Homo sapiens: one gene and its partner. The protein of the gene in region 1 interacts with the protein of each later gene in a biochemical or structural test. Each region holds a gene or a part of one and is shown on either strand. Other genes may lie near its edges.

The links.
Region 2: the proteins of TRIM24 (region 1) and THRA form a complex in vitro, tested with the Homo sapiens proteins (one study listed by BioGRID).

The regions. Positions count from the first base shown.
Region 1 is NC_000007.14:138,568,154-138,571,974, forward strand, and holds part of TRIM24 (transcription intermediary factor 1-alpha), read left to right. Parts: intron 1-2,676; coding exon 2,677-2,850; intron 2,851-3,821. UniProt on the Homo sapiens protein: Transcriptional coactivator that interacts with numerous nuclear receptors and coactivators and modulates the transcription of target genes.
Region 2 is NC_000017.11:40,083,249-40,087,069, forward strand, and holds part of THRA (thyroid hormone receptor alpha), read left to right. Parts: intron 1-586; coding exon 587-734; intron 735-1,361; coding exon 1,362-1,567; intron 1,568-3,458; coding exon 3,459-3,605; intron 3,606-3,821.

The DNA of each region.
Region 1 (3,821 bases):
TGTTGCCTAGGCTGGAGTGCAGTGGCGCAATCTGGGCTAACTGCAAACTCTGCCTCCTGGGTTCACACCATTTCTCCTGCCTCAGCCTCCTGAGTAGCTGAGACTACAGGTACTCGCCACCACGCCCAGCTAATTTTTTTTGTATTTTTAGTAGAGACTGGGTTTCACCGTGTTAGCCAGGATGGTCTCAATCTCCTAAACTCGTAAGCCACCGTACCTGGCCTCCTTTTTTTTTTTTTTTTTTTTTTTTTTTTTTAAAGTCTCTCTCTGTCACTCAGGCTAGAGTACAGTGGCATGATCTCAGCTCACTGCAACCTCTGCCTTCCGGGTTCAAGCAATTTTCCTGCCTCAGCCTCCAGAGTAGCTGGGATTACAGGCGCCCACTACCATGCCTGGCTAATTTTTGTATTTTTAGTAGAGACAGGGTTTCACCATGTTGGCCAGGCTAGTCTCGAACTCCTGGCCTCAAGTGATATGCCCGCCTCAGCCTCCCAAAGTGCTGGGATTACAGGTGTGGGCCACCATACCCGGCTGTATTATTTATATACTTAGTGTCTTCAGGTAAAAATATTTTCTGTGTTTTACATTATCTTAAAGTTATCACAGTGTTTTTTCTTCTCAAAGCTCCTATGACAACAGCCTGTCTAGCTGATTGTAGACTGATTTTGGTTTCTCCAAGACCAAAATAAAGATGATGCAATTTTCATAATTCTATAACATCCATTTTAATAAAATCATTTTAATATTTTATTCTAAAAGTATGTACACTCTGTGTCTATACATATCTTCGTATAATCAATTTGCCTTTGCTATATCATCACCAAATTCTCTTAAACAATATTTTAATTATTTAAAATAAAATTCATACCTATTATTTCATCATTAGAAGGAAAGTAAAAAGGACCCAAGCTTCAGTTTGGCCTTAAATTCTACTTATTTTCCTAATAATTTTGTGGCACTTACGTAGTCTTTTCGCATCTCCCTTGCCTCAGCTATAAAATGCGTATCTTGCAGAGTTATGTTGAGAGTTTATTCTAATGTATATACAAGCACCTAGCACATGCTCAGTATTCAAATGTTTACCTCTTCCCTATTTATTGTATTTTAATGAGTAGATACTCTAAGCATGTTTTTTTAAAATGGTTGTTGACCAAAAATGTAAACATGAATGAATAAGTAAAGGAACAAGCCAGGAAAAAATCTACTGGGAAATTGCTTTTAAGTAGTAGATGAGTTTAACAAATTAGAGTATACTCATACAGTGGAATACTTTTCAGATATTAAGAAAATGCAGTAATCTAGATATGATTTTCTGAGTACGTGAGGAAAAGCATGTTATAGAATTTTTGTGAGGTGTTATCTCATTTGTATGTGTGTTTTCCTCCAGCCTCATCATGTACATAGAAAAAAACCTGAAACGATCCACCAACTGATTGTTCTTGGTAGAGGAGGAGGAAAGGGGGCATAGAGGTGGGGAATATGAGGGAGGAGTAGGTGGTAAAGAAGACATTCATGTCCAACTTCATATGTTTCTGTATGTAGTTTCTACAATGGAATATATAAATTAGGTTTTTCAAAATTGGAATGTTTCAGACATTTTATATAGTGCTGTTCATTTGTGAATGACCATGTTTGGAAAATACGGCATCTTGCAGTACACTTAGTTACTTTCCTTCTTCCAGCATGAAAATTTTCAAACATAATAAAAATTGAAAGAATTATATAGGGAACATTTTGTTCTACTTGCCTTATTACATGTTTATCTATTCCTTTGTCCATTCATCAAGTCATCCTTTTTTTTTTTTTTTTTGAGGCAGAATCTCTCTCTCTGTAGCCCAGGCTGGAGTGCACTGGTGCAATCTTGGCTCACTGCAACCTCTGCCTCCTGGGTTCCAGTGATTCTCCTGCCACAGCCTCCCAAGTAGCTGGGATTACAGGTGCCCACCACCACGCCCGGTTAATTTTTGTGTTTTAGTAGAGATGGAGTTTCACCATGTTGGCCAGGGTGGTCTTGAACTCTTGACCTCAAGTTATCCACCCACCTTGGGCTCCCAAAGTGCTGCGATTACAGGCATGAGCCACCATGCCCAGCCCATCATGTTTTTCAATAGGTTTTGAGTAAATTCCAGACAGCAGCATGCTTCACCTCTATATACTTCAGCATGCCTATCATCATCTTAATGTGTTTATCTCAGCAGGAATGATAGTACTTTCCTCAGATATTTATCGAGGCCTAATTATCTGTTCATATATGAGAAGAGGAATATAAAATCCTGAAAGTACCAGTCTGTAGCTTAGTATTTTCAAGTATTTCAGATAGGGATAGAAGAAATGTATGTTTTCAACCCTCCATCTTTACCTTGAAGTTGCTATGTATATATTTACATTTTTTTTCCAATATGTATAAACCTGCCAAGATTGGGTACTGTGATTTTCTGGTATATACTAACTGTTGTCTTCCAGTAAAAATCAGTGCTTTTTACTGTTTTGGTTTTTTTTTTTTTTTGACAAGATTAATGAAAATTATATATACTTGTGCAGTCTTTTGCTGTCCCATTCTCCTTCCATGTAAATTACAGTTGAACTCTTCTACTTCATTTTGTGTGAGTGATTACATAGATGTTGTATTTTATAAGCTTGTTGATAGCCTTTGTTCTTCTCTTCTTGTTACTGTAGTGGCAGATCAGCAGTGGACAGGGAACCCCATCAACTACCAACAGCACATCCTCTACTCCTTCCAGCCCCACGATTACTAGTGCAGCAGGATATGATGGAAAGGCTTTTGGTTCACCTATGATCGATTTGAGCTCACCAGTGGGAGGGTCTTATAATCTTCCCTCTCTTCCGGATGTAAGTAGACACAAAATTTATACTAGCCTCTGTTGAAAACTGTTGGCCGGGTGCAGTGGCTCACTCCTGTAATCCCAGCACTTTGGGAGGCTGAGGCAGACAGATTACTTGAGGTCAGGAGTTCGAGACTAGCCTGGCCAACATGGTGAAACCCCGTCTCTACCAAAAAATACAAAAATTAACCAGGCATGATAGCACACGCCTGTAATCCCAGCTACTTGGGAGGCGGAGGCTGTGGTGAGCTGAGATCATGCCACTGCACTCTAGCCTAACAGAGCGAGACCCTGTCTCAACAAAGAAAGAAAATTGTTAGTGAATTTGGATCTGGTAGAAGGCATGAATTTGTTGGATTATAGGTTGTTTGTTTTTACAAGTTAATTTTAATCCTTTAGAATATTACAACAGTAGTAAAAATAAAAAGATTATGAACATTGGACACATAATCTAATGTCTTTCAAGCCACCGGAGTTAAAGGTGTTTGTAAATGAGTGATTATGGTGATGGATCATGGAATCTAAGCTGGGAAAGGAGAAAAGTAAGGACATGGAAAGATATGCTGGGACGTTGAATGGCTGGACATCAGAAGAGATGAAGACAAGTTTAATAATAGAAATCCTGTTAGATCATACTGACAAGTGCAAAATTACCTCTGGTTTATACTACATGTAAATTAACTCACTCTCCAAACTCTTTGTCAGTATGACTTTTTGTTATTTATTATATTTTTAAATGATTTTTATTTTTAATAGAGATGGGGGAGACGCCCTATGTTACCCAGGCTGGTCTTGAACTCCTGGGCTGAAGGGATCCTCCTGCCTTGGCCTCCTAAAGTGCTGGGATTACAGGCATGAGCCACTACACCCAGCCAGTATGACTATTCCAAAGGCAGAAAGTCTGCATTCTGTAGACAGATCTCCATATATAAGTTGATTCTGTGTTTGATCCTTTTTTTAATCTAAAGTTAGATAACC
Region 2 (3,821 bases), on another chromosome or scaffold:
AGTAGAGACAGGGTTTCACCATGTTGGCCAGGGTGATCTTGAACTCCTGACCTCATGATTCATCCGCCTTGGCCTCCCAAAGTTCTGGGATTATAGGCATGAGCCACTGCACCCAACCTCATGCCCGGCTAATTTTCTATTTTTAGTAGAGACAGGGTTTCTTCATGTTGGTCAGGCTGGTCTCGAACTCCCGACCTCAGTTGATCTGCCCACCTCGGCCTCCCAAAGTGTTGGGATTACATGCGTGCGCCACCGCGCCCGGCGACTTGGATTTCCAAAGCTGCTATTCCTTAAGGCCTCACATTATCCCAGGTTCAAAGCTGCCTGCTCTAGACATCATTCCTGCCTCTGCCACAAACACTACCCAGACACCCCCAACCCCTCAGCAGCCTGGGGGCTGAGGGCATATATTTCTCAGGTCCTTGAGCCTAGTAATCTTGGGCTCATGGTGTCAGGAGGATGCCAGGTCCCCTCACTGATCTTGCCTTCCTTGCTCTCCACCCCTGACCCCTAGTAAACTGCATGGTTGGTTCAGGAAGGGGAAGCCATGTCATGATCACAGCCTGCTCCATCTCCCCCACCCCAGGGCTTCTTTCGCCGCACAATCCAGAAGAACCTCCATCCCACCTATTCCTGCAAATATGACAGCTGCTGTGTCATTGACAAGATCACCCGCAATCAGTGCCAGCTGTGCCGCTTCAAGAAGTGCATCGCCGTGGGCATGGCCATGGACTGTAAGGGGCCCAGGTGGAGGGAATAGAGCCAGGTGGCCTGGGGTGGGGATGAGTTCTGGGAGGGCAGCTTCCTTCCAGGGTACCCTCAGAGCCCACAGGGCAGAGTGGCAATCCAGTCTAGGTCAGAATGTTCAGTGTCTTGGTCCTTGCTGTCCTCCTTCCTGCGCAAAAGGAAACAGGATCCCTGTGTGGGCCCCAATGCCTACCTGCCTTACAACACTCGAGGGCCTTAGAGAGGGAGTCGTTTGGTAGAAAGAGCTCCTGGGCACCCACTCTAGCACACTGTTCTTGACTCCCAGCGAAGGCACCCCACTTCTAGATGAGACAGGGCATCTTCCATTGGCTGGGGATTGGGTGGCAGGATATTCGAGTAACCACCGTCACCATAATCCGTTAGACCAGAACATGATATTCATCTGGATCAGCCCAAACTGTTGTTGACATGGTCCCGGGGATTAATCATGATCCGGGTTGTGCTGCCCAACTGCTAGGTGATTTGGGAAGTCATTTAGCCTCCATGGCCCTCGGTTTCTCCAACCTGTACTCTAGGAAGAGTAGTTTCCGGGAGCATTATGGAAAGGGGATGGAGGGTGCCATGCGTTAGACCTTGTGCCTCTCTGTTCACAGTGGTTCTAGATGACTCGAAGCGGGTGGCCAAGCGTAAGCTGATTGAGCAGAACCGGGAGCGGCGGCGGAAGGAGGAGATGATCCGATCACTGCAGCAGCGACCAGAGCCCACTCCTGAAGAGTGGGATCTGATCCACATTGCCACAGAGGCCCATCGCAGCACCAATGCCCAGGGCAGCCATTGGAAACAGAGGCGGAAATTCCTGGTAAGGAGAAAGGGGGCATGGGGAGAGCAGTAGCCAGGTGGCAGGGAGAAGAGAGTGAGCTCGGAGTCTTGCCTCCTCCAGGAAGTCTTCTTAGTGTAATCCAACCCAAAATACATACTCTTCACACTTTTGCTGTCCAGATTTTATACACTTGTGTTTGTGTCCTTGCTGTCTGGACTGTCTACTCCATCCAACTGGGAGCTCAATGAGGACAGGGCCTTGCCTTCCTCATCGAATTTCCAGGGAGCGGGAGCGACCTTTCTTCTTTTTCCTGCCCTTAGTGACTGGGAGGAGAGGGTAAGGATACAGTTATGTCACAGTATTTTTGAGCACCTGCTGGGTGCCAGGCATTATGTTAGGCCCTGGTCAAGCTAGTTGCTAAGTAAATGATGAGTTTGGGACCAGGTGCAGTGGCTCATGCCTGTAATCCCAGCAATTTGTGAGACCAAGGTGGGAGGATCGCTTGAGCCCAGGAGTTTGAGACCAGTCTGGGTAACATACAGAGATCCCACCTCTATGAATAATTTTTTTTTTTTTTGATACGGAGTCTCACTCTCACCCAGGCTAGAGTGCAGTGGCACGATCTCGGCTCACCGCAACCTCCGCCTCCTGGGTTCAAGCGATTCTCCCGCCTCCGTCTCCCGAGTAGTTGGGATTACAGGCACTGGCCACCATGCCTGGCTAATTTTTGTGTTTTTAGTAGAGACAGGGTTTCACCATGTTGACCAGGCTGGTCTCGAACTCCTGACCTCAAGTGATCCACCCGCCTCGGCCTCCCAAAGTGCTGTGATTACAAGATGTGAGCCACCATGCCCACCCTCTATGAATAATTTTTTTTTTTTTTTGAGTTGGAGTTTCGCTCTTGTTGTCCAGGCTGGAGTGCAGTGGCACAGTCTTGGCTCACCGCAACCTCTACCTCCCGGCTTCAAGCGATTCTCCTGCCTCAGCTTCCCAAATAGCTGGGATTACAGGCGTGCGCCACCACGCCCGGCTAATTTTGTATTTTTAGTAGAGACGGTGTTTCTCCATGTTGGTCAGGCTTGTCTGAACTCGCAACCTCAGGTGATCTGCCTGCCTTGGCCTCCCAAAGTGCTGGGATTACAGGTGTGAGCTACTGCTCCCGGCCTCTCTACGAATAATTTTAAAATTAGCTGGGCATGGGGGTGTGTGCCTGTGGTCCCAGCTACTCGGGAGGCTGAGGCAGGAGGATCCCCTAAGCCTGGGAGGTCGAGGCTGCAGTAAGCCATGATTACACCGCTGCACTCCAGCCCAGGCAACAGAGCAAGACCCTCTCTCAAAAAATATGATCAGTTTGGGAGGAGATGGACAGTTGGCTATACGTGGTGAAGGAAGGCAGAAAACCAGCACCTGGTTCATGGTGGAGCATGCCGGGGGGTGGCACAGTGCACACTGTTAAGGGCACGGGCTCTGATTCCAAGCAGATGTGTAACAGTCACGAGTCAGACTGCCCAAGTTCAAACCCTGGTCCTACCACTTGCTGGTCATATGACTTTAACCTTATTATTTAGCTGCCCCATGCCTCAGTTTCCACATCTGTGAAATGGTGATTATTATAATTATTCCTTTTAGGATTATGGTCAGGATGAAATAAGACATGTAAAACATGTAGCCTGATGCCTGATCATATATTAAGTATTCAGTCATTATAGCTGCTACTACTGTTACTACCGTTGTTATTATTAGCTGACTTGGAGCTCTGGTTCTGGTCTATTCTCTGCTCAAGATGAAGGAAAAGCTTTGGGCCTGGGACTCAGGCACGGGCGGCCCCTCTTCCCCAAGCTGCCTTGGAGCTCCCCCTGGTGGGCAGGGAGCCTCAGTGAGAGGCTGAAAGGGGTCTGCGGCCCCAGCTGACCCCCGTCTTTCTCTCTAGCCCGATGACATTGGCCAGTCACCCATTGTCTCCATGCCGGACGGAGACAAGGTGGACCTGGAAGCCTTCAGCGAGTTTACCAAGATCATCACCCCGGCCATCACCCGTGTGGTGGACTTTGCCAAAAAACTGCCCATGTTCTCCGAGGTGAGTGGCAGAAGTGGGGAGAGATGTGATGCTGTGCTGGAGGGAAACCTGCTCCCCCGGTCACCCAGTACAGGCTCATCTGAGGTTCTCTGGACAAGGAGCAATTCCTGTAGGTCAACATACACAGATAACATACACAGACACACACACACACATGCATACACATACACCCAGCACACAGGCACACATGCAGACACATACACGGACACACACACA